Linked DNA regions of Homo sapiens: region 2 is linked to region 1. The links come from fine-mapping of genetic effects on gene expression. A gene starts in region 1. The other region holds a variant in brackets. All regions are shown on one strand. Distances are between the middles of the regions.

Region 1 (15,796 bases):
TTTTTCTTTCCTACAATTGTCTGATTCTTACAGAACAAAGACCAACAAACTGTGTGATCCTGAGCAGGCCTGGGTTTCCACATTTATAAAACAAGGGAAATTGATTAGATGGCCTCGAGATAACTTGTAATTCTAAAGTTTTACCATTCTGTTACTTTTTTCCATTGTGAATAAGATTAGAAGGAACAGACTCAAAATTTGCCAGAATGGAGTGATTTAATTCAACAAACATTTACTGATCGTCTATTACAGGTTAGGCTATGCGCTAGCCCTAGAGTCTGAGATGAGTAGGACATGGGTCCTGCTAACAGTCTAGGAAAGAAGACACACACAGAAACAAACAATTTCAACATAAAGTGGAGTGGCGGCAGATGAAGATGGACAGGAAAGCAGGGTTTATAAAATAAGGGTGGCTGGGCCCTTGAGTTTTCAGCAGGGAAACTGCATGATCATATTTCAGTTTAAACAGTTTAAACAAGTTAAACAGTAAAACAGTTTAAACAATGTTAGAGGTGTACTGAAGAAATTGTAATGAGCAAAACACAGACATTTATTTATTTAGACATATTTTTTTCAGCACCCACTGTGTTAGATAAGGAAAAACTGCTAGAACTGTTTCTATGAATGAGATGTGGAAATAAATTATAACACTTAAATTTTAGGGAAGGGAAATGGTGTCTATCCAGGCCTCCTTAAAAGGGCAAGAATAGATAAAGGGGTCTTCAAGTTTTTTCCTCCCCAAGGCTTTGTTACATCACACTCCCTTTCTTCCGGGATAACAAAACCTGCTGTTTAAAATTAAACTGAATGGGATTAATCAATCTAAAATTTGCTTACTCATTACCCACTGCTTCCACAGCAGTGAGCTAGGCACAGTAGGGAGGAAAACAGGAAATCTGGAAGGAATGTGGGGACTGCAAGGTGTATTTAGAGAATGGGGAATAACTTAATCTTGTTGGAGCAGAAGGAGATACAGAGGAGTAAGGTCACATTGGAGACTACACTTCCATCAGGCTAAGGCAAACGATTTTATCCTACAGGCAATGGTGAGCTATTGAAAGATCGGCTTGTTAACATTGCAAAGTCCACCCGAAATAGCATGAAATGAATCTGTTTGCTTCATTTATGTTGCATCAAAAACACCACAAGTGCCATCTTGTACTTTAGCATAAAATCTTCCTGGAGTGCTTCTTGAAGCTTCTTTATGCAGACTGTTGAACTTAATTTTCCCACTAGAGGGCAGGCTAAACTCACAGATTCTATATATTTGGTGATTCTCCTAGTTCTTAAATTTAATTTCTCCCACTATTTTTAAACTGTGTGCGTGTGGTGTGGTGAGAACACTTGAGATTACACTCTTAGCAAATTTCAAGTACACCATACATTATTAATAACTATAGTCACTGTACTGTATGTTAGATCCCCGAAATTTATTCATCTTACGACTGAAAATTTGTACTGTTTGATCAAGATCTATTTGTTTCCCTCACCTGCCAGCCCCATGGTAATCATTCTGCTGTTTCTATGAGTTTAACTTTTTTGGATTCCACATATAAGTGAAATAATATAGTATTTGTCTTTCTGTTTCTAGCTTATTTCACTTAGCATAAAGTCCTCCAGATTTGTCCATGTTGTCGCAAATGGCAGGATTTCCTTATGTATCACATTTTCTTTCTTTGTTTCTTTTTTTTTTTTCTTTAGATGGAGTTTCACCCTTGTTGTCCAGGCTGGAGTGCAGTGGCATGGTCTCAGCTCACTGCAACCTCATCCTCTGCCTCCTGGTTTCAAGTGATTTTCCTGCCTCAGCTTCCCAAGCAACTGGGACTACAGGCGCCTGCCACCACGCCCAGCTAATTTTTGTATTTTTAATGAGACAGGGTTTCATCATCATTTTGGCCAGACTGGTCTTGAACTCCTGACCTCAGGTGATCTGCCCACCTCGGCCTCCCAAAGTGCTGGGATAACAGGCATGAGCCACCGCACCCGGACCCCATATTTTTTATCCAGTCACCTGTAGACAGATACTTCTGCTGATTCCACATCTTGTCAATTGTGAATAATGCTGCGATGAACATGGAAGCACAGATCTCTCTTTAACATACTGATTTCATTTCCTTTGGATATATTCCCAGAAGTGGGATTGCTGGTTCTTACAGTAGTTCTATTTTTAATATTTTAAAGGAAACTCCATACTGTTTTCCATATGGCTGTACCAGTTTACATTCCCACCAACAGTGTACAAAGATCCCTTTTCTCCACACCCTCGACATCACTTGTAATCTTTTGACTTTTTGAGAGTAGCCACACTACCAGGTGTGAGGTGATATCTCGTTATGGTTTTGCCTTACACTTCTCTGATGATTAATGATGTCGAGCACCTTTTCATATACCTGTGGGTCATTTGTATGTCTTCTCTGGGAAAATGTTGATTGAAGTCCTTTGCACATTCAAACAAAATTCTGGTTATTTGTTTTTGTTTTGTTTTGCTATTGAGTTTTATGAGTTCCTTATATATTTTGTATGTTAATCCCTGATCAGATATATGGTTTGCAAATATTTTCTCCCGTTCTGTATGTTGCCTTTTCATTTTGTTGATCCCTACTATAATAATCTTTAAAGGGATGTTTTTTACCCTCCTTCTCATCAGAATTACTGCCTTTGGAAAAAAATCACCATCAATCTGATTACCCACTGTTTCCACAGCAGTGAGCTAGGCACAGAGGGGGAAAGTTGTGGACCCTTCCTTCCCAGAGTTCCCCAAACCAACACCAAGTCGTAGCTACCTACTCTGGGGCCCAGTCTTCTATCGCCACAGTATAGTGCATAGAGTCTTTGGAGCTGACACCATCACAAGGTACTAAGAAGATGTATAGTACAGGTTGTTTTTGTTTGTTTGTTTGTTTTGAGACAGTGTTGCAATCATAGCTTACTGTGACCTCAATCTCCTGGCTCAAGTGATTCTCTCACTTCTGCCTCCAGAGTAGCTGGGACTACAGGCATGCACCACCATGCCTGGTGAATTTTTTTTAAAAATGTTTTCGTAGAGATGGGGTCTTGGTATGTTGCCCAGGCTACTTTTATACTCCCTTAGCTCAAGGGATCCTCCTGCTTCAGCCTCACAAACTGTTGGAATTATAGGCATGAACCACCATGCCTGGCTGAGCCCAAGAATCTTACATAGCATCAAGAGCTCAGATACTGGAATAAATACTCCCTAAACAATGCAGCCCTCAAATGTCATGGATCATTGAAAAGGTGTAGGGAAGAAGTAGGACTGATTTCAAAGCCAGTAAGAGTCAAAGGATTGAAGAAGTCAATCTATACATAAAATATTTACAGAGCACCCCACCCCATCTCTAACATCCAATCATCTTTCAAAGATATTTGAATATTTTTGAAGAAAGCCTACTGAAGGATTTTAAAATAAAATTGTTATAAATACTGTCTTTCAAAATATTAGTTTTGAGTTGTATTACAGATTAGTCCTAGCCTAGAGCAGACCTATGAGAGAATATAGCACAGATAAACAGATTCTACCATCATCTCCTTCCATTGATTTCAGCCATTTGCTCCCTCACCAGTAATCTACTTATTATTACCACTGAAATCTTTTTTTTTTTTAAGATAGGACCTCAACTCTGTTGCCCAGGTTGGCATGCAGTTGTACCATCATGGCTCACTGCAGCCTCGACCTCCTGGACTCAGGTGATCCTCCCACCTCAGCCTCCTGGGTAGCTGGTAGTACAGGTACACACCACCATGCCCAGCTAATTTTTTGTGTTTTTTGTAGAGATGAGGTTTTGCCATATTGCCCAGGCTGGTCTTGAACCCCTGGGCTCAAGCAATCCACCAGCCTAGGCCTCCCATAGTGCCAGGGTTACAGGCATGAGCCATCACACCCGGTCACCACTGAAATCTTAGACTCTCAAGCTTTTCATTTTCTGGCTCAGTCACTCTGTCTTCCTGTAAACTAGATCCAGGTTTTCATCCATTCACTTATTGACCAAGAATTTATTGAGCACCAGCTTTGAATGAGGCAATGAATTAGGCCTAGAAATTCAAAGGTAAAAATAATGGAGATTCCTTGTCTTTAAGGCGCTTACAGTCCGTTGCCCTCCTCTTCTGTCCCCTCCCCAATTCAGAAAAAAGTGGACAAGCAATTATATATAACACCCATGATCAGTGTTATAATCCAAGTAGCTATTGGGTGTGTCTAGACACTCTTAGGAGGCACTCTAGGGAAACTTTGCAGAGAATTTGTTGTAGGATGTATTAGTTTGTTATTGCTGCTATAACAAATGACCACAAATTTAGTGGATTAAAGGAACACAAATTTATTATCCTACAGTTCTGCAGATCAAAAGCCCAACATGGGGTTCACTGGGCTAAAATCAAGTATCTGCAGGGTCATGTTCCTTCCTGGAGGCTCTAGGGCAGGATCTGTTTTTTGACCTTTCCAGTTTCTAGAGGCCATTCACCCCCTCCAGCTCAGGACCTCCATGCTTCAACTTTCAAGCCAGCAATGTTGCATTTTTCCAACCAGTCTTGCGTCATCACATCTCTCCCTGACTTCGGCTAGGAAAGGTTTGCAGCTTTTAAGGACTGACGTAATTAGATTGGGCCCACCTGGATAATCCAGGCTAATCTTCCACTCCCAAGGGCCTTAACTTAATCACATCCGTAAAATCCTTTTGCCTTGTAAAATAATGCAGCCATAGGTTCCAGGGATTAGGAAGTGGACATTTCCTCCTTTGGGAGGCCATTATTCTGCCTACCATGTAGAGAGACAGCTGCATAAAAGGAAGCGGGTAGAGGTGGGGATTGGAGGTAGGAGGCCCTTTCCAGGAAACCATGTGGAAGGGCCGTTAGGTGAGAATATTGTGCATTCTAGGAACTGTAGGGAGTTTCGTAAGGCCCAAGTATGAAGTTTACATTGGAATGTGGGAGGCTATTCATTCAATACATATTTATTGAATACTATGTGGTGGGTGCAGTTTGGGAGATGCAGGGATGCACAAGACAAAGTCCTTGTTCTCTGAGGCTAGAATGAAAAGCAAGGGCTGACTGTGAGAGAATTCAGAGTTTCCTTAGGAGATTGGACTTTAAGAGTTAGAGAAAGTCATGCATTAATTCATCTGCCAAAAATTTTGTGAGCACAAGTGCCAGGCATTGTTCTAGGCTCTGAGAATACAGATGTTTAAAAACCAAAGTCAAAAAATGCCATGTCCTACATGTTAGTTGATTTTAAGCAGGAGAAGCAGATGTTTGCTTTGGAAACATCACCCTGGCTGGGTTACTTGAGAAAAGATTGGAAGGGGAATAAGATTAGAGGTAGCTCAGTCCCTTTCCTCCCGCTTCTTGAAGATTCACAGCCTTTGCTGAGCTTCACTTCCGTCCTTGAGGACTTCCTCTTTTGTCAGGAGCCCTCTTTTCCTTTTATGCCTCTACTGTACCTATCTTGGAAACCTGACCTCATGTTCTACACCTGGGCTTCCAAGTGCTGCAGAAGAAAATGATGAAAACATTCGGATGTTTTTATTCATAGCCACAACATATTAGAGTATCCAATGCCAGCTGTATCTTCAACTCTGCTGACAATTCTCTCTCTCTCTCCTCTCTCTGGAGCTACCACTCTCATTCCTTATTCCTTTCTATTTTAACCTTAACCACTTTTTTTTTTTGAGATGGAGTTTCACTCTTGTTGCCCAGCCTGGAGTACAATGGCGCGATCTCGGCTCACCGCAACCTCTGCCTCCCTGGTTCAAGCGATTCTCCTGCCTTAGCTTCCCGAGTAGCTGGTATTACAGGCATGCGCCACCACGCCCAGCTATTTTTGTATCTTTAGTAGAGACGGGGTTTCTCCATGTTGGTCAGGCTAGTCTGGAACTCCCGACCTTAGGTGATGCGTCCACCTCGGCCTCCCAAAGTTCTGGGATTATAGGCGTGAGCCACCGTGCCCAGCAACCTTAACCACTTTCTTTAAGCCTTTAACCTCATCTTGAGCCTTTCTCTCTCAGCAGATTGCTTAGAGACTACAAGGCAGCAACTAGTCCTCTCAACATCTAGTCTCAAGTTCTAGTCTCTTTACCAGTCTACAGATGCCTCTGCTTTTGTACAGCCTTCCTCTCAAAGATATCAGAGGCAGCTCCACCCCATATACCTGGGTCCCAACTCCCTCCTATTCATGATCTCGCTCTCCTTGGTCTTACTCTTCAGCATATGAAAATGCTTAAGCCTTTCTTATCCTAAAAAGAAAAAACAAAAGTCTCCCCTTTGATCCTGCATTCCCCTCTACCCACTGCCTTATATTTCTCCTTGTCTTAAATTGCCAAGCTTCTAGAAAAAGCATGTGTCTTTTATTCCAGATCCAGGTTCATTCATTCACTTAGTGACCAATAATTTATTGAGCACCAGCTTTGAATCAGGGAATGAATTAGGCCTAGAATCCACTGGAGGCATTTTCTAGCCTACCCTCCTGGAGGTTCCTGCTGCACTGGTTATCCAGTCATTCTCTTCTGAGATTCTCCCACCCTAGTTTCTGACACTCTGTGGCCTCCAGTTTTTCTCTTACCTCTCTGGTTGTTTCTTCTTTCCTCCTTATGCCCATCTGGACGACCTCATACAGGCTTATAACTTCACTGACTACCCATAACCTACAGAATCCAAAGCTGCTATCACTTGTTCACACCCCAATATGAGTTTAGTTTCATAAGTTTGCTGTCTACTAGACATCCCCATCTAGACATTCCACAGATACCTCAAACCCAACATGTTCAAAATTAAGCTCAAGATCCCTCTGCCAACACCTGGGCCCTGTCTTTCTAATTGTCCCTAACTTAGGGAATGGTACCACCTGCCAACAATTTCTAAGGCTTCAAATGGGGAGTAATTCCAGAGTCCTCCTCTTCCCTAATTTCCTACATTTTATATATTTATCAAATACTATTGATTTCTCTTTATAAGTATCTTTTGTATCTGCTCCGTTTTTTTCATCCCCACTGCCACAGCTCTGGCACAGTTTTGAGATTCCCTGATTTCCCACCTGGAACGTAGCCATGGTTTCTCTGTTGAGCTCCCAGGCTGCACTCCTGACTTGTGTTACTAGGTCCTGGCAGAAAGCAAATGGCACACTGCACTTGAGGGGTAATTTGAGGAGAGGTTAAAAAATAAGGGGACAATTTATAAAGGGTCGGCGGAGTACAGGAAAACCACAAGAAATAGTGTACAATCTACTAGGGCCAGTAGCAAATCAATGTTTCCACCCCCAGGCCCGAAAAGTCAAAGGAGGGGAGTGATTACCTGAATCAAGAGAGAGGGAGGGGGCTGGCACTGTGGCTCACGCCTGTAATCCCAGCACTTTGGGAGGCTGAGGAGGGTGGATCATGAGGTCAGGAGATTGAGACCATCCTGGCTAACAAAGTGAAACCCTGTCTCTACTAAAAATACAAAAAAAATTTGGCCGGGCATGGTGGCATGCGCCTGTAGTCCCAGCTACTCAGGAGGCTGAGGCAGGAGAATCGCTTGCACCCGGGAGGCAGAGGTTGCAGTAAGCCACTGCACTCCAGCCTGGGCAATAGAGTGAGACTCGGTCTCAAGAAAAAGAAAAAAAGAAAAACAAAAGAGAGAGGGAGGGGAGAGAGAACCACCCGTGGAAGCTGTGATCTTTGGTTGAGGGTGGCAGCCAGCGCACTGTGACCCCAAAGAGAGGAATCCTGAAGAATAAATATCCAGTTTCCCCTGACCTCCCTCCTTATTCAATCTTCAGCCATGGCCCCCATTGGCCAACCCAGTCTAGGAAGCCAGAGGGCCAGGAAGATCTGGAGGGGCAAACGGAAGACATGCAGTGCATCTTCCAAATCCTTCTCTATAATATGCCAGGAAGTCTTTTTCTGGTCACACTACTTCCCAGTTCCATTTGTGCACAGCAGGTTCTCTGTCACCTACAGCACCTAAACTTTTTGGCATGCCCTGGTTTCTCTTTATTCAATTTTTTCCTTACCAAAATGCATGATAAAGCCTGTGATCTGATCCTCCACTCAGCTACCTATGCCTACTTCCTGTTAGTTCTTTCCTTCAGACTTTTCACCCCAGCAGCATAGAACCACCAGTGGTCGCCGGGCGCGGTGGCTCACGCCTGTAATCCCAGCACTTTGGGAGGCCGAGGTGGGTGGAACACAAGGTCAGGAGATCGAGACCATCCTGGCTAACACGGTGAAACCCTGTCTCTACTAAAAATACAAAAAAAAAAAAAAAAAAAAAGAAAAAATTAGCTGGGCATAGTGGCGGGCGCCTGTAGTCCCAGCTACTCCGGAGGCTGGGCCAGAAGAATGGCGTGAACCCGGGAGGCAGAGCTTGCAGCGAGCCGAGATCACGCCACTGCACTCCAGCCTGGGCGACAGAGCAAGACTCCGTCTCAAAAAAAAAAAAAAAAAAAAGAACCACCAGTGGCCCCTGTAACACTCTGTTCTCTCAGGCTCCTGAGCTTGACCTGATGACAGACACAGAGTAAGCTGTCATAAATATTTGTATGGTGAAGAAGTGCACGGACACGTTTTTTAACCCCTGTGGCTCCTGAGATCAGGAGTAGCATCATATACATTATGACATATGTGCAGACCAAGCTGCCTTCAGTTAATTATCAAGATGTTTCACCTACATTCTCTCCTTTGATCATTACGAAAGCGTGATAGGTGAGGACGCTATTCTTGATATTCAGAGGGTGAAGTGGAATACTGAAAGTCACAAGCATTGGGTACAGAAGGCACTGTAGGATCAGAAAGGGGAGTGATCCCTTTCCTCCCCATCATAAGAGTCACAGCCGACACTTCTATAACAAAAGACAAGTTAACCAGAGAAAAGCATAACAAATTTATTTAATCATGGTTTTACTTGAGAGGCTGAGGACCAGGTGTTAATCTTCATAGTCTGTCGAGAAAGAAAGAAGAAATGAGGGCAGTGGAGGAAAACACGATTCACGTTTTTAGGAAAATATACTTTGAGATTAGTGATCGTTGGTACTATGCAAACCAAATGCAAACGAGGAGCTGGCCAACTCATGGTTTCTTTTGGGTGGAGCCTTTAGGAAAATTCTTCCAGAGACCACTGCTGGAAGAAAGGTATTTAGAGTAGAAAATTTAAATATAACATATTGTATGAAAGGTTTTTTTTTTTTACTTTTTTTTCTCACTACCCTAGTTGGGTTGGAGGATCCTCTATCTCCCCTCCCTACTTAGGTTGACTGCTGTTTCCTGGATCGCAGCTCGGAAGATCCACCTGGGCGAATACAAAAACAAACGAGACTCCCCTTCCAGAAAGGGAGGAAGGAAGGAGACAGAAAGACGAATGACACTGAGCGTGTAAAGCCCGGAGACAGCCTCTCTCTACCCCAACCTAACCCTCAAGGTAGGGGATCCCCCGAACATCGCTACCGTAATTATGGTAGAAATTCCTGAAACGGATAACTGGACCTCAGCACCGTCATTTCTAGCAGAATGATTGAGCTTTCCTCTGACCCAAAGCCAAGGGGTTCCAGCAGGGGAAACTAACGACCATCCGCAAAAACCCTCACCCAAGTGGGGAGTGGAAATCCTGGCTCTTGGGTTGCAGAGCACAACTTGACGCCAGCGCGTTTCTCTTCCCCCACGCAATGGCAAGTGGGGCGGGAGTCGGAGGGGAGAGGAGGAGAGGAGAAGAGAAGAGGAGGGGGAAGGGGAGGGGAGAGGCGAAGGGCGGCCCGGGTTCCAGCAGCCGCCCCGCCCTCCGGCTCGCGGCGGATTCGGCGCTGCGGCTGGAGCCGGCGGCCGGGTGCCTGCCTGTCCAGGCAGGGTCTGGCCGAGCGTCGCGTCGCCGTGCAGTGCGCCGGGTGTCCGGGAGATGGCTTCCCCTCTCTCGCCCGCTGCTGCCGCTATTGTCTCACCCGGGGTGGCCTGACTCTGCGAGCTCGCGCACGCTCTCGGCGGAGAGCACCCCTCCCCACCCCCACAAGCTGGTCCTTGCGCCCTTTGCTGCCTCTCCCTCTGCCCCTTGGAGCCTAGGGTCTGTGCGGAGCCTGGAGAGGGGAGCGGCCCGGGAGCAGGCGGCGTGCGGCCGGCCAGCTCCTCTCGCGCTGGTGCAAGAGGCGCCTGGAGCCGCAGAGCGAGCCCGGGAGGCGCGGAGCGAGCAGCCCACGTCGCCAGGCACAAGACACGTCGGATGTTGCAGCAGAGCCAGCAGCTAGCGCAGGTAGGACACGCATCCTGCGGGTTGCATCGGCCCCAGCGTCTGTAAAGTGCCCCCAGAGTGGAGGCAGCCGAGGTCAGGGGGCTCTCCCTCCAACATGGCAACAGCGGAGGTGCAACAATGGAAGCAGCCGAGGGTTCCTGGCGGCGGGCTGAGCGGCGGACGCCGTGGGAGCCTGAGCTCCTGCCCGCCGGGCAGAGCAGGTTGCCCCTCACCCCACTCCACTCCACTCCAGCAGCTTCAGGGCCTCTGGGGCTCCAGGCACCCGCGTCCCCACCCCCTTCTCGCTAAACACACTTCCTGGCTCCCAGCTGCAGGGCGATCTGAACCAGTCAATGGCTTTGGGGTTTGTTTATTTAAGATAAGAAATAAAAAAAGCAAAACCTGTCCTGTGATGGGGTTAGTGCCTTCTGTGGACTGGGTGAGAAGTCGGCATCTAGCCTGGGGAATGTGTACGTTTCTTAGTCGGGCGGAGGGTAGAATTGGATTCTCCCTTATAAGGATACTGCAGCAAAAGGAGACTGAAAGCTTGAAAGAGGGAGAGGGACCCTCAGGCCTGAGTTCGCCGGTGCTGGGAGAAGGCGCTGCTCTCCTGGCCTATACTTGTCCCTCATTTTCAGCTCCCGACAGCGGTGACTTTGATGTTGGAGGAGCAATCGCAGCAGGAAGCACAAGCAAGGCTGCCAAGCTGGTGTGGGGTGGAGTAGGGTGGGGAGCCCAGGGGCTTGGCAGGCTTCTGGATTGTGGGAAGAGGTTACCAAATGTATGAGGTTAGTGCACACACCCTAGTTGGCTGATGTTGAAGTGTGTGTGTGTGTGTGTGTGTGTGTGTGTTTTCTGCCATTGCTCTTGCTCCTTCAGGCCTGCCTTTTCTCCTCTCCACCCGCTTCTGGGGTCTTCGTAGCTTCCCTGCCCCAGCCCTTCCAATCATGCCTGGGATGGAATCGCTGTATTGTCTCTGGCAGCTCTCTTGGGCTGTTTTTTCTCAACTCTGTTGGAGAGTTTTGTACCCTGGGCTGGCTGGTCCCAGCATGGCACCAGATTCTTTAGCAGGCGGCTACCCGGGCTCCAAGAAGTGGGCCAATGCTGCCCCTCCTCCTTGCTCTAAACTACCTATTTGGGATATGGCCAGGCAGATGTAAGCAATTTGTACTAAATTCCAACCCTGAATCAGTGCTGAATGAAAACTTACTCTGTTGCTGCATCAGGCTTTGGGAAGATATTAGGAAGAGAAATGGCCCAGGAGGTGGCAATGCCGACCCCCAAATACTTCCCTCTCCCCAACTCCAGCTGCCGATCCCAGAGCAGACAGGCAGTGAGACTTTGGAATCCCAGCTCCTCCAGAGTCTGGCTGGCCCATCTTGAGGTTGTGTCCATGGAAAAATTAAGTCGAGGCACATTTTATAGCTCTGCTTGGCAGCCAGCATCTGAAGAGATGGTGGCTCTGAGCTGGAGCCCTAGACCCAGGCTGTGGCTGCTTCTCCTTTGGCCTTTGGGTGAGCCTGAGGTTTGATTGCCATGGCTCTGAGCTTACTGCTGAGTGTGTATGGCTGAATCTGATCAAGCTCTCAGACCCGGCTGCTTGTCTATTTCCTTCTCCACTGGAAGCATGAGTGAGAAAGGGCCAAGGGGGTGTGCTGGGTGAGGAAGGGTCAGTTTATCTGGGGACTTGGGCTGTTTCTGGGGGAGCTCCTTTGGACTTCCTTGGTGGTCTGGAATGCCTTTGGTCTTTGTCATGACCTAGTATGCTCTGGCAGATACTCTATACCCTCGTGGGCCTTTGGTCCCCGCTTGGTGGTGTCCCCACTCCTCCTGTGCCTGGTGCTTTGCATCTATATCATGTCTGTGGTGCTTCAGCTGGGATGGCCCTGGCCTGGACCAGTGGGTAGAAAAATGAGGTCTCTGTTCCTTTTAGGGGCTTGTAACTAGCTATAAGGTTCAGGCTCCTCATGTTCCCAGGATGTGAACTTGGACATCATAATGTGAAGTAGTAGAGAAAACAGTGTCTTGGTGTGACTTTCTTTTTAGCTATGTGAGCACAGACAATTTGTGGACCTAAGATTTAGTTTGTATATTTGTAAAATGGAGGTGGGGGAGTAGCCATGGCTCACAGGATTAATAATGAAATGCTGCTTACCAAGAACTAAACAGAATCATGTGTGCAAAAGTACCCTGAAAACTACAGAGTACTTTACAAATGATTATTCTTACTGGGTTTAGCCTCCCACATAAGGGAGGGAGATCTGTGAGGGATGGGGATAGGGTGGGATCTGAGGGCCACATGGAGTAGGGAATGTTTTGGGACCTTTTCTTTCTTGCTAAGGAAAGAGTAGTGTGACAATACCAAGGTAACTGCTGTATTCCTTGGGTATTTTTCTTTAAATAGTGTTGGCAGGATGGGAACTGGGAGAGAAGGAAAGGATGCCTCATGATATTTGTAGGAATTGAGGAGGGATAAACACCTTCCAAAGGCTGGCTACTGCCTATAGAGAGGATAATGCTGAGCTGGCAAGTAATGTAATCACTAACACTCACTGATGTCAGCCAGCTAGTAAATGATAGAGGTGGGATTTGAAGCAAGCAGTCTCACTCCTTACCCTGTGTTCATAGCCTCAGTGCTACTCAGAGAGATATTGGGTCTTGGGAGAACAGAAAGGGACAGCAAAATTGTGGAGTTCATTCTTTTTGTTTGTTCTTGAGACAGGGTCTCTCCCTGTTGCCTAGGCTGGAGTGCAGTGGGCTCAAGTGATCCTTCGACCTCAGTCCCCACCCTGAGTAGCTTGGACTATAGGCATGCACCACTACATGTGGCTAATTTTTTAAGTTTTTGTAGAGATGGGGTCTCAGTATGTTGCCCAGGCTGGTCTCAAACTCCTGGCCTCAAAGGAACCTCCTGCCTTGGCCTCCCAAAGGGTTAGGATTATAGGCATGAGCCACTATGTCCAGCCTCAGAATTCATTTTTTTTTTTTGAGACAGAGTCTCACCCTGTCACCCAGACTGGAGTGCAGTGGTGTCATCTCAGCTCCCTGCAACCTCCGTCTCCCAGGTTCAAGGGATTCTTGTGCTTCAGCCTCCCGAGTAGCTGGGATTATAGGCGTGTGCCACCATGCCTGGCTAATTTTTTGTATTTTTAGTAGAGACAGGGTTTCACCATGTTGGCCAGGCTGGTCTCGAACTCCTGACCTCAGGTGATCCACCTGCCTCAGCCTCCCAAAGGGCCAGGATTACAGGTGTGAGTCACCATGTCCAGCCTCAGAATTCATTCTTAATGGATTCCTTGAATGCCCATGAGACGTCACCAGCCTGGGACATCTCATGGGCATGTAGGCATAATAAATTTTTCTGGGCCTCATCTGCTTTTCTATGCATTTTTATTTCTATGTCTACCTTCCAAGGAAGGAAGAGATGTGGGATAATCTGATCAAGTCATATTGCTGCCTTCTGAGCAACACTAATAGAAGGTTTGGGACTTGGAGGATCCTGGGGAAATTAAGGCAGATTTCTTGTTTTGGTATTTTCATATCTGCTTTATTTTGCATCTGTTTTATAAAATGAAACTTGAGGGACTATTCTTGCCTTTTTTTTTTTTCTTTTTCTGTTGAGACAGGATTTCACTATGTTGCCTAGACTGATCTCGAACTTCTGGTCTCAAGTGATCCTCCCACCTCGGCCTCCCAAAGTGTTGGGATTACGGGCATGAGCCACCTCTCCCAGCTTGTTCTTGCATTTTGTAAGATCACATAGAGTATCAAAACTGGAAAGGACCTGGGCCATCACTTCCCTGAGAAAAAGTGACTTTCTCAAGGTCATGCAGTTAGTAGCAATGCTGGAACTGAACGCCTACCCCGCAGATCACAACATGACCCGTGAAAGGACCTATCCTGCAACACTTTGGAGTTTCGTGCCGACCCAATTAGTGGCTTTGTCTTTGGGAAATTTACTTCCCCAAAACACTGGGACATTGGGATGGAATTCACTCACCCCAAATCATCACCCTGGTTAAGGAGACTAAAGAATCAGAAGACATTTGTGCTTTGGGGAGCAGAGGCCCTCAGGGTATAGAGAAGGAAGAAGAGAGAGGTTCACTGTAGTCCTGAAGCAGAAATAAGACCTGTGGCTGAAGGAAGCCTTAGCAATTCACTCCTTCCTCTTCCTGAGAACTCTCTGTAGGAAGTCTCACCTAGCAGAGGCTTCACAGTATTTCAGAGAAGCCAAAGATTGTTTGCCTCTTTGGAAACTGTTATCCTTCCATCATGACTGTGTCACTCCTGCCACTGTTCCACCATAGAGGTGGGTGCCTAATATTAGAGAGTTGTTTCACACACGTGGCTCATTCCTCAAGCCTCGCTAAGCCAAGCCCACCAGGAAGAAGCTTGAGTGGAAGCATTCTCTCCAGCCACATCTTTCTCTCTTTCTCTCATACTAGATGGCGTCCTTTGCAGCAAACCGTAAGTTATAAGGATGAGGGAAGAAGAGTAGAGGGCCAAAAGGATTCCATTTTGAGGAAAAACTACAGTTTGCCTTGCCAGGTAGAAGAATCAGGTATGAGTTCTTTTTGTCTCAGGTAATAAACTAAGCAAAGCCCAGATAGTAGTAATGATGGAGCCCTTCAACTATTGACGTCTCCCTAAGAGCCCTCATTTTCTGAAAGCAGAGTGTTTGTCCCATTCCTGACTCGCCATGCTGTGTGTCTCCCAGAGAGTGAAAGAAATTGCTGTGACTGCGAGCACCAGTAGAGTGGATTTAATTCTCACCAAGAAAAGGGAGGTGGTTTGCAAATGGGTTGTTTTGGGATCCTGGGAGAGGAACATTGTAGCCAGAGATATTAGATTTTCACTCTAGACTTTAAGGAGGCAGATTTTTTTTTTTTTTTAAATTAAAAGATAGGGGCCAGGAATAGTGGCTTATGCTGTAATCTCAGCACTTGGGAGACTGACATGGGATGATCACTTGAGCCAAGGAGTTTGAGACCAGCCTGGGCAACATAGCAAGACCTTGTCTCTACTAAAAATAAAAATAAAAACAATTAGGGTGTGATGGCGCACACTTGTGGTCTCAGCTACTCAGGAGGCTGAAGTGGGAGGATCTTTTGAGCCCAGGAGTTTGAGGCTGCAGTGAGCTATAATTGCACCACTCTGATTGCATCCAGGTTTCACTGTAGCCTGGGTGACAGAGTGAGACCCTGTCTCTGAAAATAATAATAATAATAAAGAGCTTGTACAATTAACTTGAGAGGAGCCAAAATTTGAGTCTAGGTCAGGAAACCTCTAGAACCTGTGTTCCTTCTGTGCTATGCTGAAGGGGACTGTGAGAAAAAAAATGTTCATGAGGCTCGAGTCCTGAATGAGATGGAGCTTCCCCAAGAGCCAGTAATGACACAAGTGGTTCTTAAAGTCATTTCTGGAAGACAATAGGATCACAAGGGTTTAAGTCTATCAGATCATGTTAAAAAGGAACTCATTCATTTATTCATTAATTTGACTAACATCTTGATTGTTTACTAGTGACTTTAGGTACTTTTAAGTCATTGAGTGGGGGAAATATGGGTTGCCTTGTGAACTCATCAGTGGGGCCTTT
Region 2 (15,796 bases), 39 kb after region 1:
ATCCCCCGGAAAGCCCGTGTTGCAGGAGAGGCCCAACAGCACTGGATTGCCTTACTGGCTGCCTCACGCTTATCAGACTGTCCCCTCCTGAAGTGGCTTTGGCCACACTCTTGTCCATCTCAGCCAGAGCTTCGCCTCCTTCTTCAACTTGGCTCCTGGTCTCCTAGGACAGCAGATACATGTATTCCCGGATGTCCCATATGTTCTTGTGCCCCTTTCATTGGATGTCGAGTGACTAGAAAGTCTTTTCATCTAGAGTTTGAGTTTAGGTCTGGAGTACCTCATAGGGAGGGGACACCACGAGGAAAAAGGCACTGAGTCGTCTGCTCTTCTCTTAAAGGTGGGCTCCCGGCCCCACACTGTTGCCAATGGCCATGAGTTGTTTGAGGTCTCAGAAGAGAGAGATGAGGAGGTTGCTGCATTTTGCCACATGCTGGATATGTAAGAGTTAAAGAATGGGGTGGGATTTGGGAGGGCTATGGGGGATGGGGAGGGGGGCCATCCATTTCCAAACTTTCTTTAGGAGGGAAGAAGCACCATAATAAGTAAATCTCAGTTCATAGCTATGAAAATGCTTCCTACAACAAGTGTCTGCAGGGTTTTTGAAATCTTAGAAGTCTCACATTTTTAGCAAAATTCATGAAACCTCCATTGAATGGTCAAAGTATCCTGATCACTCTAGAGTCTGACCCTCAGTTGCCCTTAAGAGCAAATGCACCCCAGCTGGCGATAAGAGTGTTATCTGGAACTAAAAGAGAAAGGAAATGGATTCATAAAAAATTTTCCATTAAACTTAGCATGGAAAGCTTTGTCATTTTAGAACTATTTGTACTGTTCAATGGTGGGAAACATTTTGCAATTATAAGAGAAGTGTCAAGAAGGGGGTTTCTCAGAGCTGCTACCCCACTGCCCCCATCCTGGCCTGCAAATTTGGAGGGCTGGGCTGAGTGGGGACAGAGGGGCTCTTGAGCCTCAGAGCATGAGGTTCCCAACAGATGTCTTCTTGACTACTCTCTTCTAAAGGCACAGTGAGGGTTTTTTTTCTTCCTGTACAGCCTTCGATCTGGCTCTGACATCCAAGACTACTTCCTCACTGGCTATGTCTGGAGTGCTGTCACCCCTAGCCCAGAGCACCTCGGGGATGAGGTCAACCTGAAGGTGACTGTGTTGTGTGACAGGCTTCAAGAGGCACTCACTTTCACCTGCAACTGTAAGTTAGTGAGGGGGGAGAGGATGTGAGCATCCCTTGAAGTGGGGTGGGGATGACTGTGTTTTGACTCGATTTCCACCTCATCTTGTGGCCCAGATGAAGGGCAGTGAGGATGCTCCTTTGGGGGTGAGGGGCTGGCTATGGGGCCAGCATTCTAGTACAGTCACTTTCCTCAACTCTGAACTACTTGCCTGCTTTATCTGGTTGGTGATGGTGCTGGAGAATACTTAGCTGGAAAGGGGGATCAGGGTGGGGAAACTGAGACCCATCTGCCTTGACATCCATCATGATTGCTCCCCCTACCTTACCCTTCACAGGTTCCTCCACTGTAGACTTGCTTATCTACCAGACCCTGTGCTACACCCATGATGACCTGAGGAATGTGGACGTGGGTGACTTTGTGCTAAAGCCCTGCGGGCTGGAGGAGTTCCTGCAGAAGTGAGTGAATGGGTGGGAGGTAGCCCCTGCCTTCCTGGTAGTAAGATTGTGAGGGGGCTTCATGGGATTGGTGCTGGGACCGGCCTGGCAGCTCCGCCCCAATCCCACAGTCAAGACTCCTGCTTTCTGGGCACACTCTCGGCCACGTAGCACTTTCCCCAGGAGCTCTGTCTTCCAGCAGGGTTGGCTGACGTCCTGAGCCAAGTCTGCTGTGGAAAGAGCTTGGAGCTGGGATTAGGCAAAGACTAGGTCATATCTGCTTGCAGATTCTGCTTATGGAGAGATGTGTGTATTTGTGGGGAGGGGTGGGCTTGGGGAGACTATATGGGTAGTGCTGTATCTCCTGCTCTAGATTATGTGTGGTGTTTTTATGGCTGGGGCAAAATGAGGACTGGGCAGAAGTTCCCTTGTGGAGCCCAGGGGAGAAATTACAATTACTGTCTCTCCCCATTCTCCTGCCAACAAGTCTTTTCCCCAGCTGGCCCGTGCAGCTAGTTATCCTCCTCCCAAAGGCGTGCCTCCAGCTCCTCTCCATCCAGTGCCCTCTCTGGAAAGCAGCCTCCCTGGAAAGTCTGATGTGGACCAGCTGAGGCAACCCCCTTTCCACTACCCTGGGCTCTGGAGGGCTGCAGTGGAAGAGAGGCAGGGGCAAGGTTATCACTTCTCAGATGGTACAGCTGTGTGACAGCAGACAGATAAGATCTGCTTTCCTCTCTTAGGCTTCAGAGCCGCTCCTGCCCCCAGTCTCTGTCCACTTGGAGGAAGCACGTTTTGGGAATAGAGAAAGGAGAGACCTGTGTCTCACTTCTTAGGAGTGCCCTATAAGTGCCACTGCTTGCTTTTTCTCTCTCTTACATTCAGGTCTAGATGCAAGGATGGTTGATCTATGTCTAGAGCATAAGATTTGGCAGTCAGGATGGAAGATTCATTTCTGGACTTCTTTCTTTTTTTGAGACAGAGTCTCACTCTGTCGTGCAGGCTGGAGTGCTGTGGCGCCATCTCACTCAGCTCACTGCAACCTCCGTCTCCCAGGCTCAAGCGATTCTCATGCCTCAGCCTCCTGAGTAGCTGGGATTACAGGCATAAGCACCACCACGCCCGGCTAATTTTTGTATTTTTTAATAGAGACTGGGTTTCACCATGTTGGCCAGGCTGGTCTCGAACTCCTGACCTCGGGTGATCTGCCCGCCTTGGCCTCCCAAAGTGCTGGGATTACAGGTGTGAGCCACTGTGCCCAGCTATCTGGGCTTATTTCAAATTTAAGGATATTGTGGGGTCCTTTCTGGCCTCTGCCTCCTCATCTCGAAGCTAAGGGAAAGGAAAGAGGCAGGGTTCTGTATGGTACAACTCCAGGGTACCCTTCAAATGTGCCCCACCTTTAAACTCACTTATGTACACACTTTTCCCCTAGAGGAACAGGAGGGGTCCTAGACTCAGGGTTGCCTGGCAGAGAGAGTGCCAGGTGGCCTGCCACTGTTAGAAGGGAAAAAGGGGACATAGTGGATAAGTTGGAGCTCCTGCTGACGCCATTACACAGGTTTGAATTCGGACTTGCCACTTACTAGTTGTGAAGGCTGATTGATGCTCAGGGCCCTCTGTAAGCTGCAGTGAGGGTGAAATGTGAGAATGACCTGTGAGCAATCAGTAAATACCAGCAGGGAAGGAGCAGCCCACGGAGAGAAGTCCTAGGGCTCTGGGCTGCACAGATACTGCCATTTCCCTTGCAGCACCCCAAATCCTGGAGCCCCTGGGTCCGGAGGTAGTGGGAGCTGTCAAGTTCTACCTTCCTGCTAAGACTCAGGTGAAATATTCTTAGTGAGGTGGGACAGGGTCAGCGGTCCTCAGATCACACCCCTCATACTCTCACTTGAATGCACAGAGAGGAAGGCCTTCCACAGAGAAGATCAAGCAAGTCCCCAGGGGACCTGTGTGCATGACTCCTGGCCTAGGAGCCCCACTCCCACCCAACAGAAAAGCACAATGCTGTCTCCTGGCCCAGCCCCCAGACCCCCAACACATGACAACTGCCTGGGATGGGGGTGGAAAGGACGCTCCGGGGGTTCCAGAAATCTGCTAGTTCCCAAGGAAGCCCTGAGATTTTCTACCCCTGCCTGGCAGGAGGGGCTGATACTGAGGGGGTGAGTGGGTTCAGGATGCAGGCTGCTCTCAGATAAGAACCTTGAGGCAGTCCCGTGGGAGGGTTGGGTTTCCTGCCACCTCCCCCAGCCCCACCACACTCTTCCTTCCTCCCAGGCTCTCCCACCAGGCCCAGCCCCACAGCCCAGCCTCACCACCTCCAGGTTTTGGCTGCACTTCAGTCTTAGATCTGAGAGGGTCTAGATCGGAGATTTGGTCCTCTCAGGATGTGGAGAACCCCTCACTCGAGCCCTCATGGGACCTAGACGACCCTGGGCCCTGCACCTCCGCCAGCTTTTACATATACTGCCCCCCTTATGCTCCTGTCCTCTCCTCTCCATTTCTGGCCTAGATTCCCAGCTCTGCTGAGGAAGGAAGTCCTTTTCCGGCTTCTGTTACCCAGCTGCTGAGGCCAGGCCCAGGCCTGCAGTGCTGGCCTGGAGGTAGTTCTCCCTCTGCCCCTCCTCTTGGGTTTCCTTGCTGTTGAAGGTGTGATTTGGGAGAGAGGAAGAGGTTGGATCGCCGAGGGCTCCTAGGCCTTCTCTCTGAAAGGGGGAGTCTCACACATGGGTGCTTGAGCAGGTGGGACTGGCATGCATTTGGGACTTTTCAAGAAGTCATAGAAATTTGTAAGGTTATTCACAAGCAGGCAGGGCCAACAGATGGAAGGCAGAAAAAGAAGTTGGGTGGGGACACTGATCTGGAGGCTTGGTAGGCTTGCCCCAAGTTTTTTTGGCCTCAGCACCCTAGTTGGTAGCATTGGAAGAGGGGTCTCTCGCTGAGCTCCCACCCTGGAGCCTGAGCACAGGTGGACTCCAACATGTCTCTTCCTGGTTGTCCCCTATACAGAGGCCCAGAAGATAGGGCTTCAGCAACTGCTCCCTGTGATGTGCCTCTGTTTCCCCGCTCTCTCCAACAGTTCCCAGCCCTGGAGTGAACCAGTGATTACCACACGGGTAATAAATATCTAAGAGAGTCAATATTTATACCGGCCAAGGATTAAGTATATTAGGTGGCTTTTGTTTAGATAGACCTCTGTTCCTTCTCCTAAGCTCTACCGTGTCATTTTCTAGGAGCCAAAGTAGGGTACAACACGGGTACTACCCCCTTACCTAAACCTTCTTTCTGTATGTCTCTCCCCAAGGCTAAGGTATGTATCTCCCTTGCCACTGAGTCCCCAGGATGCTAATGGTCTTGTCCCTCTACCCTACCAGCAAGCATGCCTTGGGCAGTCATGAGTACATCCAATACTGCCGCAAGTTTGACATTGACATTCGGCTACAGCTGATGGAGCAGAAGGTTGTGCGCAGTGACCTGGCCCGGACGGTTCGTGTGAGGGTGGTGGAGGGTTGCCCAGGGCTGGGGAGGTGGAATGGGAATACAATATAGAACACATCAGGTGGGAGGGGGGTAGGAGTGCTGAGCTGAGATAAGGGCACCGCCCCTCTCTGAATAGGTCACTTCTTATACAGGTGAATGATGACCAGAGCCCCTCCACCTTGAACTACCTCGTCCATCTCCAAGAGAGGCCTGTCAAGCAGACCATCAGCAGGTGAGTGTGGGCACCATCTTGGATGTGCTCCAAACAAGAACTGTGCAGGGATCCCATCAGATGTGCCTGCTTGCCTTTCTGTCAGGGCTAAGGGATTCTTGCAGGTGTCAGGGGTTGGGGCCCACACATCTTATCAGAGAAGATCCCCACTCCAGGCATGTTTCATTTCTTCCCTCTGGAACTTTGCCATCATTCTCTCCAGGCGAGAAGTGGCAGAATAGAAAGACTCTCCCTCTATATGTCTTCACAGGACATATAGAAAGAGTGGGAACTCCTTTAAATCAGAGTGTGAGCTGAGGAGAGGGAGGGAGAAAATGGGTTTCCCAGGGCACTGGGTCTTTCATGACCTCTCCTGTGGTTTTTCCCTGCCCCCAACTCCCAGGCAGGCCCTGAGTCTTCTGTTCGACACTTACCACAATGAGGTGGATGCCTTCCTGCTGGCTGATGTGAGTACGAATCCAGGGGCTGGCCCTGCTGCCCGAAAGCTCCTCCTCTCCCCTTCCTCAGTCCTCCTGGGATCACCCAGCACTATGAGGGGTCTGGGTGGAGCCTGAAAATCTGTTGGCAGAGCACTTCTTTTTAACCCCTCGCTCATGGGCAAACTAAGACTACTAGATGTTGGGCAACGGCAAGTGCGTAGTCAGGGATTCTGCTCCTCTATAGAAGAAGCAGGTCGGAAACTGCATGCTGGTCCCATTCTCTGGAATAGGATGTCTCCAGAGCTAAGGAACCTAGAGCTGTCACCCCCCAGCTGCTGCACTTGATGTACACTGGAGCATGCATCCTATGAGCAATGTCAGAAACCTCCAGTTTGAGAGGTTCTGTTTTGCTGTTATCGCAGGTAGGAAACCATCAGGAGGTAGAAGGTTTCACATGTAGGGAGGGCCAGAGCCCTCCCCACTTGGATTCATGCGGAGTCTCAAGCCTCAAAACCATGAGAGTCAACATTTGTCTTAAATGTCACAACGCCAAAGAAAATCTGACAGTGATCTTCAAAAATAATCCCTTGCTGAGTGTGATGGCCCACGCCTGTAATCCTAACCCTTTGGGAAACTGAGGTGGGAGAATTGCTTGAACCCCAAAGTTCAAGGCCAGCCTGGGCAACACAGCAAGACCCCATCTCTACAAAAAATACAAAAGTTAGCCAGGTATGGTGGCACACACCTGTAGCCCCAGCTACTCTGGAGGCTGAGGTGGGAGGATCGCTTGAGCCCAGGAGTTTGGGGCTGTGTAGTGAGCTATGATCACACCATTGCACTCCAGCCTGCGTGACAGAGTGAGACCCTATCTCAAAAAACAAAACAAAAACCAATCCCTGTCTCATTGATCCAGTTAATAGTAGTCATAAACGCTTCCTTTTTGAGGGGTTCAGCATTATGTCTAGTCACTGCCAGAATCCCTTCTCCAGCAGCCTGTGCTTGAACATTTCCAGTGATGCGGGGGAAGCTCTCTGAACACCTGTGCTGTGCTGTTCTGGCCCTTTGCTAGTGGCTACGATGGGTAGAGAAGTGTAAGAATCGTCATAGCCTTGGCCAGGTGCGGTGGCTCACGCCTGTAATCCCAGCACTTTGGGAGGCTGAGGTGGGCGGGTCACCTGAGGTCAGGAGTTCGAGACCAGCCTGGCCAACATGGTGAAGCCCCATCTCTACTAAAAATACAAAAATTAACTGGGTGTGGTTGCAGGCGCCTGTAATCCCAGCTATTCAGGAGGCTGAAGCAAGAGAATTGCTTGAACCCGGGAGGCAGAGGTTGCAGTGAGCCGAGATCGCGCCATTGCACTCTAGCCTGGGTGACAGAGCAAGACTCCGTCTCAAAAAAAAAAAAAAAAATTGTCATAGCCTTTGGGGAGCTTGTGTTCTTGTTAGAAAAATTGAATAGTAACACAAAGCTATTAGTAGACAGAACAGGATGGTAATAAATTAATTAAGGGCTCCTGGAGGATGCTAGAGGAAGGGGATTGGCCAGGGAGGGCTTTATGCAGGAGGTAGAATTTTAGCTGCTCTGTGATTTAAATGTACATAGGTAATCAGAGCTGGACAGGTGAGGGAATTCCAGGAGCATAATTCCAGAGGGGAGGTTATGGCTGTGGCATGTCTGTAGAAATGAGATGAGATCTGTCTGGAAATTCTACAGGTCTCTGGGAGAGACCCTGTATATATGTGTATAGTATAAGTAGACTAACTATAGAGAGAGGCTAGAGATAGGAGGAGCTTCAAGGGGAACGGCTGAAAGAATTGGGGCATGTGGGCATGGCCCATTGAATTCAGTGGGAGAGATTATTTGCTGATGATGAATATTTGAAAATAAAATGTATTGCACATTTACCCCTGAGGATCATGAATCTCTCTACTCTTCCCAACCCTTTCCTTTAAAGACTGGGGTGGGGAGGGGTTGGAGACCAAGAGCATGAGAGCAGAGCCTGCCAGCCTCACTGTGCCACCTCCCACAGGGAGACTTCCCACTGAAGGCTGACAGGGTGGTCCAGTCCGTCAAGGCCATCTGCAACGCCCTGGCCGCCGTGGAAACCCCTGAGATCACCAGTGCTCTCAACCAGCTGCCCCCCTGCCCCTCCCGCATGCAGCCTAAAATTCAGAAGGTAAAGGGGCCCAGGGTGCTAGCAGGGGAAAGGAAGAGAGGGATACTGTCAGGTAACTGAGTTGCCTGTTGCTAGAGTGTGTAGGTGTTCACTCACTAAAAAGGGGCTTCTCTCCACCTCCATCTTTTATGTTTAAGGAATTCAACCGCAAGAGCTCTTCAGAAATGGATGCCAAGTGTGTCTCCTCTTCCTGAGGTTGAGGGAGAGCTACCTGGGACTGCTTGTTGAGAGCCCAGGCCAGTAAAGGCTTTATTCACAGTCACCAAGGCATTGCCTGACAGTCTGCATATCCATCAGGGTGCAAAAACAAACCAGGAGGAAAATCTCTCTAGAGCCAGGGGCTCCAGGACTCCAGCAGGGGCTGTGTGCTCTGCAGACAGGGCCAGCACCATAGGCACTGTGATCTGCAGCCGAGTAGCCTGAGGGTTGGGATATCTCAGAAGGGTGGACCCGATGATTGCTATCCTCCGTCAGCTCACTCTGTCCATCATACAGATCTGGTACAAACCATTACTCTCTCCTCTCTGGGGATTCTCAGCTACTCACATTTCAGCCCATTCTGGTCCAGATGAGCGCAGCTGTGAAAAGCCCTTCTTCCAGCTGTGACGAAAAAGGCTATGGCCCTGAAGCTCCCCTCCCTCTTCTTTTTCCCAACAGGATCCCAGTGTCTTGGCTGTGAGGGAAAACCGAGGTAAGGGAACTGCTCTCCATCTTCATCCAGTCGGGCTGCCGAAAACTGCAGTCTCTGCCCCGATTCCTTTTTCTGCCTGGGCCCCTTGATTTATGTGTCGGAGTTCGGCTGGTGTGTGTGTGTGTGTGGGTGTGTGTGTGTGTGTGTGTGTGTGTGTGTGTGTTCCTATATGAGGTGTGGATACAGCTGGAGAGCACATTTCTTTCCACAAAGTGTTTTCTTATTATTTTTCCTAGTCATTCCTCCTGGTGTCCCTGGGAGATGATGATGAGGGGGTAGAAGTGTGGGAGTGGGGTGGTGGGGCAGCACTAGCCCTGTGATCCAGATGGGAAGCCTCCCACTTGGGTAGATTGTGATTATTCTCCCAACAGCTCACACTTGCTACCTTTCCGATTTAGAGTGGGCCTTGGGAGAGGATGAGAAAGAATTTTCCCTACGATTTTTCTAGGATTC[C/G]CCTGTTGTGCCCTTCAAGCTGAACTTTGCCCTAAGACTGACCTATATCCCTGGGATTCCTTTGTTTTGGTTTTGTTTTTTGTTTTGGCATCCCTGGGATTCTTATGGTGATTCCCAGTCTTTTGGATTTCATAGACCAGTAAAATGTCCCCCAAAGTATTTGGGGGACCAAGAGAGAATTGGCAGCCTTTTACTTGGCCAAACTTTTTTGACTTTTGCTTTTTTGAAGCAACTGACAATAATTATTAACACTGTTTCCTAAAAGAAAGGACATTTTAATGCTAAGTAGCAATACGTAAAAATAAGGATTATGTTTAACATTGTATAACTGTCATTTTATGAAAAGCTCATGACATGCTTCTGCTTTTTTCTCATTTTACCGCAGATGGGTGAACTTTGTCACAGCTATTAGAGACTGACTAGCATTTGGGGACCACTGTCTTAGGCCATCCCATTCTAGCCAATGCCATGGCAACAAGGTAGGGCTTGTGGAGGCCTCATGACTTTCCCTTCTGACCCCTTCCCTTCCCAGAGAAGGTCGTGGAAGCCCTGACCGCTGCCATCTTGGACCTGGTGGAGCTGTACTGCAACACATTCAACGCAGACTTCCAGACGGCAGTGCCCGGGAGCCGCAAGCATGACCTGGTCCAGGAGGCCTGCCATTTCGCCAGGTCCCTGGCCTTCACTGTCTATGCCACCCACCGCATCCCCATCATCTGGGCTACCAGGTGAGCCCAGGGCTGAGTAGCCGCTAGGGAGCAAGCTGAGTTTGACCTCCACCAGGGCTTTTTCCTATCTGCATGTAATACCACTGTCCTAAGTCTTAGGATGTGTGGCATTGTGTGACATTGTGGTGCAATGGGGCTGCGGGGGTGAGCCAAGTGCCTGAGGAGGACTTGGGCTGGGGACATCCTAGAGGAGAGAGGAGGTCCCTTAGGAGATGAAGAAGATCCTGTTATTCCCTCTTGGTGCTGGCTGCCTCTGCATCCCTGCCCCCTCCAGATCCAAGACCAGTGGAAGGAGACATGGCAACAGATGGCCGATTCCCAGATAGAGTGCACGCTCCCTGGCCAGTGGGAGGGGGTGGGGAGGTGGGATTGACCCTTTGTCTGGGGTTCTCTAGGCCTGCAGGGGTGGGTGGAGGAGGATGTTCTTTTGGTAAAATCCTCAGCGCCTCTGTTGGGTCCCCAGCATCCAAGGCCTGAGGGAATAGGCACTGGGCCCTACCCCGCCCCTGCCGGTCCCCTTTCCCCAACCCCCTTCCCCTTCTCTCTTTGTTCCTTACTTAATGTATTCCTCTGGGCGATTGGCAGAGAACAAAGGAGGCAGCCTGGGAAACCGGGGCCTTCTCTGACCTCTTCTGTCAGGCACCTGTCATGAGCCACAGGGACCCCCGTGTGTTGGCATTCATGTCGGCATATGTCGTCTTCCTCCCCCACCCTTCTCACTTGCGCATGCACGTGCACGCGCACACACGCACGCACACACAGACGCTCCATGGGCTGGAGCTTTCTATAAAGAGGCTGGGTGGCCAGTTCCCATTAAAGGAAGAAAAACAACAAGGCTCAGAATGGAGCCTAAAACCGAGCAGAGGAATCTAGATTGAGTTGCTTTGGCCTGAGCACATTTCCTTACATCCAGTTTGGCTGTCCTATCCGGAGATCCTGTGTTACAGCCCTCAGAGACTGAGAGTTTTACCAGGGGAAATGGATTTTGGCCTTAGAGGGACGCATAGGTTTGGGTGATTGGTTTTGGGAGCTGGGTGTCCTGACCTGCTCCCTTTCTTTTATAGCTATGAAGATTTCTACCTCTCCTGCTCCCTCAGCCATGGCGGCAAGGAGCTGTGCAGCCCCCTGCAGACCCGAAGAGCTCACTTCTCCAAGTACCTCTTCCACCTCATCGTCTGGGACCAGCAGTAAGCCCTTCCCCCAGGCTTCAGTGCCCAGGCCACTGTAGACCTGCTCAGCCTCTGAAATATCCCTGGGGCCAGATAACTAGTCCAGGACTAATGATAAAACCAGGCTCCTTGTTAACCCTAACTGGACAAGTCATTCAACCTCTTGAGTCTCCACTTCCCTGACTCTTTTTTTTTTTTTTTTTTTGAGAGGCAGCCTCGCTTTGTTGCCCAAGCTGGAGTGCAGTGGTGCGATCTCGGCTCACTGCAAGCTCTGCCTCCTGGGTTCACGCCATTCTTCTGTCTCAGCCTCCCGAGTAGCTGGGACTACAGGCGCCCGCCACCACGCCCAGCTAATTTTTTGTATTTTTAGCAGAGATGGGGTTTCCATGTGTTAGCTAGGATAGTCTCGATCTCCTGACCTCGTGATCTGCCCGCCTCGGCCTCCCAGAGTGCTGGGATTACAGGCGTGAGCCACCACGCCTGGCCTCCACTTCCCTGACTCTTAAAGGAGCCAAGTATAATTACCACTTCTCAAGTTGTCATGAGGATCCAATGAGAAGTATCTATAAAGGCTCTTTGTAAACCATAAAAAACATATAAATTTTAGTTGTTGACCAGGCGCGGTGGCTTACGCTTGTAATCCCAGCGCTTTGGGAGGCCGAGGCGGGCGGATCACCTGAGGCAGGGAGTTCAAGACCAGCCTGACCAACATGGAGAAACCTCGTCTCTACTAAAAAAAATACAAAATAGCCGGGCATGGTGGCGCATGCCTGTAATCCCAGCTACTAGGGAGGCTGAGGCAGGAGAATCGCTTGAACCCGGGAGGTGGAGGTTGTAGTGAGCTGAGATCGTGCCATTGCACTCCAGCCTGGGCAACAAGAGCGAAATTCTGTCTCAAAAAAAAAAAAATTAAATGTTAGTTGTTAATTTTAATAATACTTTATTTTTTGATCTTGTCTCCCTTAAAGAGTTTAACTAGTTGGAGGGCTTCTCATCCTCTCCCTTCTTCCCTCAGTTCCTGTAGACTATGGAGAGGAGACTGTGCTTTTCCCTTTATATATAGAGAAGGGAGGGTTGTCTAGAGAAAGAATATTGAGCTTGGATTCCCAGGAGTGAGCCTCTATTTCTAGCTCTGTCTCGAATACTACTTTCTCTCTATTCTTTCTGTGCCTCATTTTTTCAAACTGAGAAATGGGGACATTGGTTTCACTCAGAGGCAGTTATGGCGTCGAGATGAGATAGGTGGGTTATAAATATAAATATGAAACCAAAAGCACAAGGTAATATTAATCACCACATGTAAACAATAATTTGGTGTCGGGAAGGTAGGCGTCAGCCAAGCAAAGCAGGAAGGAAACGGAGGAGAGGGTGCCTTGCTTGAATGGGGGCACCGCAGGGGTTTTCCTGCCCTGTGCTTCATCTGTGCTATGCTCTACCTTCCTTCCAGTCAGTCAGAAAATCCCCTGTTTGCTGCCCCCGGCTTTGCTTCCCCACACTGACTATATTAGAGTCCTCATTTGCAGAGCAGCACTGCAAGCTAAGTATTTGTAGCACAGATTAAAGAGACTGAGGAGGGTCCTGGGGAGGCCGAGGATGCAAAATAGGTAGATGAAGAATCTGGAGATGCTGGAAGAGGTGGGTCCTTTTACAGATGGACAACTGGGAAAATGGACCCTTTCTCATGCCCTTCACACTTAGGTAATTCTTAGAGCAATAAAGGTGTATATGGCTGGGCACGATGGCTCACACCTGTAGTCTCACCGTACTTTGGGAGGACAAGGCGGGATAATCACTTGAGATCAGGAATTTGAGACCAGCCTGGGCAACACAAAGAGGCCTTATCTCTACTAAAAAATTATTTTAAATGAGCTGAGTGTGGTGGCGTGCATCTGTAGTCCTAGCTACTTAAGAGGCTGAGGTGGGAGAGTCACTTGAGCCTGGGAGGTCGAGGCTGCAGTGAGCCATGATCACACCACTGCACTATAGCCTGGGCAACAGAGTGAGACCCTATCTTAAAAAAAAAAAAAAAAAAAAAGGACATGGGGTGTGCATTAAAGGTCCTCAAGCAAACAACTGCCAGGACAGGAGAAACTCCTTGCAGGCAGAGGATAGCTGCATTAAATGGCCCTTGAGTTCCACCATTCCCTTGGGATTTTTTGGTCACAATTACTGCTGCTGTCAAGAGAAGGGGTGCCAGCCTGGGCAACAAGGGAGACCCAATCTCTACAAAAAATACAAAAAATTAGCCAAGTGTGGTGGCATACACCTGTGGTTCCAGCTACTTAGGAGGCTGAGGTGGGAGAATCACTTGAGCCTGGGAGGTCAAGGCTGCAGTGAGTATCCAGCCTCGGCAACAGAGCGAGACCCTGTCTCAAAAAAAAAAAAAAAAAAAAAAAAAGGGTGCTGCACAGTGTTCTGGCCCAGGAGGAACTTTAAAAAATTGGCCTTAAACCCTTTACTCATACAGTATCAGAGGTAGAGAGGCAGCCCAGCCTGCCCCATGAGTTTCATTTTGTTCCCTGAGATCCCCACCTTGAATTTTAAAGGGGCAGTCCCCTGCCTAGCGCCTTGTGAAGGGCACTATCTTGCACTGTCCATCCAGAAGCCCCGAATGAGACTTCTTGGCCCTTCATGGTCAAGACCAGGACATTTGGGGGAAGGCGTGCCAGCGTTCAGAGGACAGTCTTTGGGCCAGTCATTCTCTCCTTCCTACTGTAGTTGCAGCCTGGGGCAGGTCTTTCAACCTAGAATGGTAGCGATAATAGGGCCTACCCTACAGGATTGTTTGAGGAGCAGTTAGGACACTGTAAATAAAGTACTTGGCACAGGCTTCTTAGCTGGGGAGCCCTCTTGGTTTTGGTTTCTCTGTTCCAAGTGACTGACAGACTGGCTGATACATGGGGATACGTGCGCATGAAAATACTATCTGTATAAGCCAGTGCCAGTGCAGTAACCACAGCATCACATAGCAAAAAGTACACAGTCTGCACACACATCATGCAAGTGAAGCTATGTTCCCCTTTTCCCTGATGAGAAACTGAGGCACAGAGATGGGAATTAAGTTGCCCAGGATTGTGAGTGGCAGAACCGGGACTGGAGCCAACCAGCACATTCCAGGAATCCTTCCTGGAGGAGGCAGCCTGTGTGATATGAGGTTGTTGAATGGGCTGCAGGAAGGAGAGGGGCTTCTCAGGGAGGAAGGTAAGGGCTGCAGCCAACATAATGGTTATCCTGACCAGCCCTGGGTGAAGATCTGTGGGAGAGGTTGTGGAATACCAGATATACCCAAGGACTGAAGGGAAGAGGGCCTTGGCTGGCTCTGGTTTCACTCATAAAGTCTTCTCACTCCCCTTTTCCTTAAGACACGAAGCTGGAAGCTTCTTCCTTGGGTGAAAAGAAAGGGCTCAGGACCAGCTCCCTCTCCCCTTTGCTATGGGGTCAGCTGATTCTCTGCCCCACTGTAGCGGTCCAGGGATCAGCTAACTCTCAAAATAGGCTCAGCAGCCGTGCTTTGTCACCTCCAGCCAAGCCCTGGCCTGGCATGTCTGCTGGCTGCTGGAGGGGCCCTAATTATAGCTGTGGGCCCCCAGGGTAGAGGCAGCTGGGACAGAGCAGGGCTCTGCCAGTCTGTGGTGGGCTGGAGGGAGTGCCTCACTTAGGTGGAGATTCCTCTGGAGGACAGCGGTGGAGGCAGGCTGCTTTATCATGAAACTGCCAACCTTGGGGGTGGCCGCCCTGCCTCTGCGCCCTCTGGCATAGAAGTTGCTGGGCCCTGGGCTGGCCAGGAGGGTGTGACAGTATGGACTTTGGCCCAGGGACAGCTTCCCCGAAAGGTAACGTGGGTCCTCCCTGCCTTTCCACAGCTCCCCTCCCCTGTGTACTTCACCCCACCCAGCAGTTCCTTATCCTGAGCTTAGAGGGAGTGGCTAGGTGTGATTCAGACTGAGGGACCTGGAGAGAACTTATGGGCTTGAATAGTGGTGGGGCTTATGTGTCTCAGTTCTCTTGGCCCTGCCATTGGCTTTCTCACCACTGGGGTACTTGGAGAAACCCCTCCTCTTTGTCCCTTTGGCTTTGAAGCTGTTTGGGGGTGGGGGTGAGAAAAACCCAGTGTGTGTCCCTGGGGCTAGGTGAAGGGGACTCCTATGAGGACAAGTGAGAGGGCTGTGGGGGAGGGTGAACCGAGGGCAGAGAACATGGTGCTTCTTCCTGGTGGCTCTCAGCAGCAAGAAGTGGGGGAGGGATGGAGACTGTCAAATGGAAAAGGAGGACAAAAGGAGTAGCTTTGCGGACCCTCTGCGGAAATCCTAAAACAAGGAAAGGAGCAAGGCTGACAACATGGGACGTGTCATCACCTGAACTCCGAGGTGGCTCTGCTAAGCAAGTTCTGTCCAGGCACCACGGGTAGCTTCAAAATCGGGATGTTCGCCTCACTCTACTGCAAAGCTCCAAGGACACCACATTGTGCTTCTGGGAACATCCAGTGGGGGTTTTGCCTAGTTTGGGACCTCTCCTGGTTCTGCAGGAGGAGGGCTTCCTCAGGGAGTATGTCTGAACCCTGAGAGGGAGGCTGTATCCTCAGCCTCAGCCTCAGCCTGACTTCCTGGGCCACCTGTTGCTTGAAGCCACAGGAGTGGCCCCTCCTAATTTGACTTCCTGTCCTCCATAGGATCTGCTTCCCAGTGCAGGTGAACCGGCTGCCTCGGGAGACACTGCTGTGTGCCACTCTCTATGCTCTGCCCATCCCCCCACCGGGGAGCTCCTCAGAGGCCAATAAGCAGCGGCGGGTGCCTGAAGCCCTGGGCTGGGTCACTACCCCACTC

What was found. PIP is the estimated chance that this variant, and not a neighbour inherited with it, causes the effect.
Region 2: its variant is fine-mapped to the expression of PIK3C2B in whole blood (TOPMed, PIP above 0.99).

Annotation. Positions count from the first base shown.
Region 1 is chr1:204,488,781-204,504,576 of GRCh38, reverse strand. It overlaps PIK3C2B (phosphatidylinositol-4-phosphate 3-kinase catalytic subunit type 2 beta), which reads left to right and starts at 9,772. Exons shown (of 33, transcript NM_001377334.1): 1 at 9,772-10,221. LOC124904584 (translation initiation factor IF-2) reads right to left here and starts at 12,826. Exons shown (of 2, transcript XM_047439554.1): 1 at 12,816-12,826; 2 at 8,845-10,401. The coding sequence starts at 12,826. The coding sequence ends at 9,381. RefSeq lists silencers at 9,623-10,092, 11,652-11,731 and enhancers at 10,193-10,322, 10,393-10,582.
Region 2 is chr1:204,449,864-204,465,659 of GRCh38, reverse strand. It overlaps PIK3C2B (phosphatidylinositol-4-phosphate 3-kinase catalytic subunit type 2 beta), which reads left to right. Exons shown (of 33, transcript NM_001377334.1): 3 at 341-441; 4 at 1,056-1,210; 5 at 1,528-1,648; 6 at 4,999-5,110; 7 at 5,257-5,336; 8 at 5,719-5,782; 9 at 7,786-7,932; 10 at 8,590-8,623; 11 at 9,609-9,804; 12 at 10,869-10,991; 13 at 15,643-15,796. Among named protein-coding and RNA genes, the nearest start is that of PIK3C2B, 37 kb to the left of the region's middle. RefSeq lists silencers at 3,165-3,459, 8,273-8,473 and enhancers at 7,344-7,843, 7,844-8,345, 9,853-10,830, 12,423-12,532, 15,687-15,796. The variant C/G (reference allele first, on the strand shown) is at 9,077.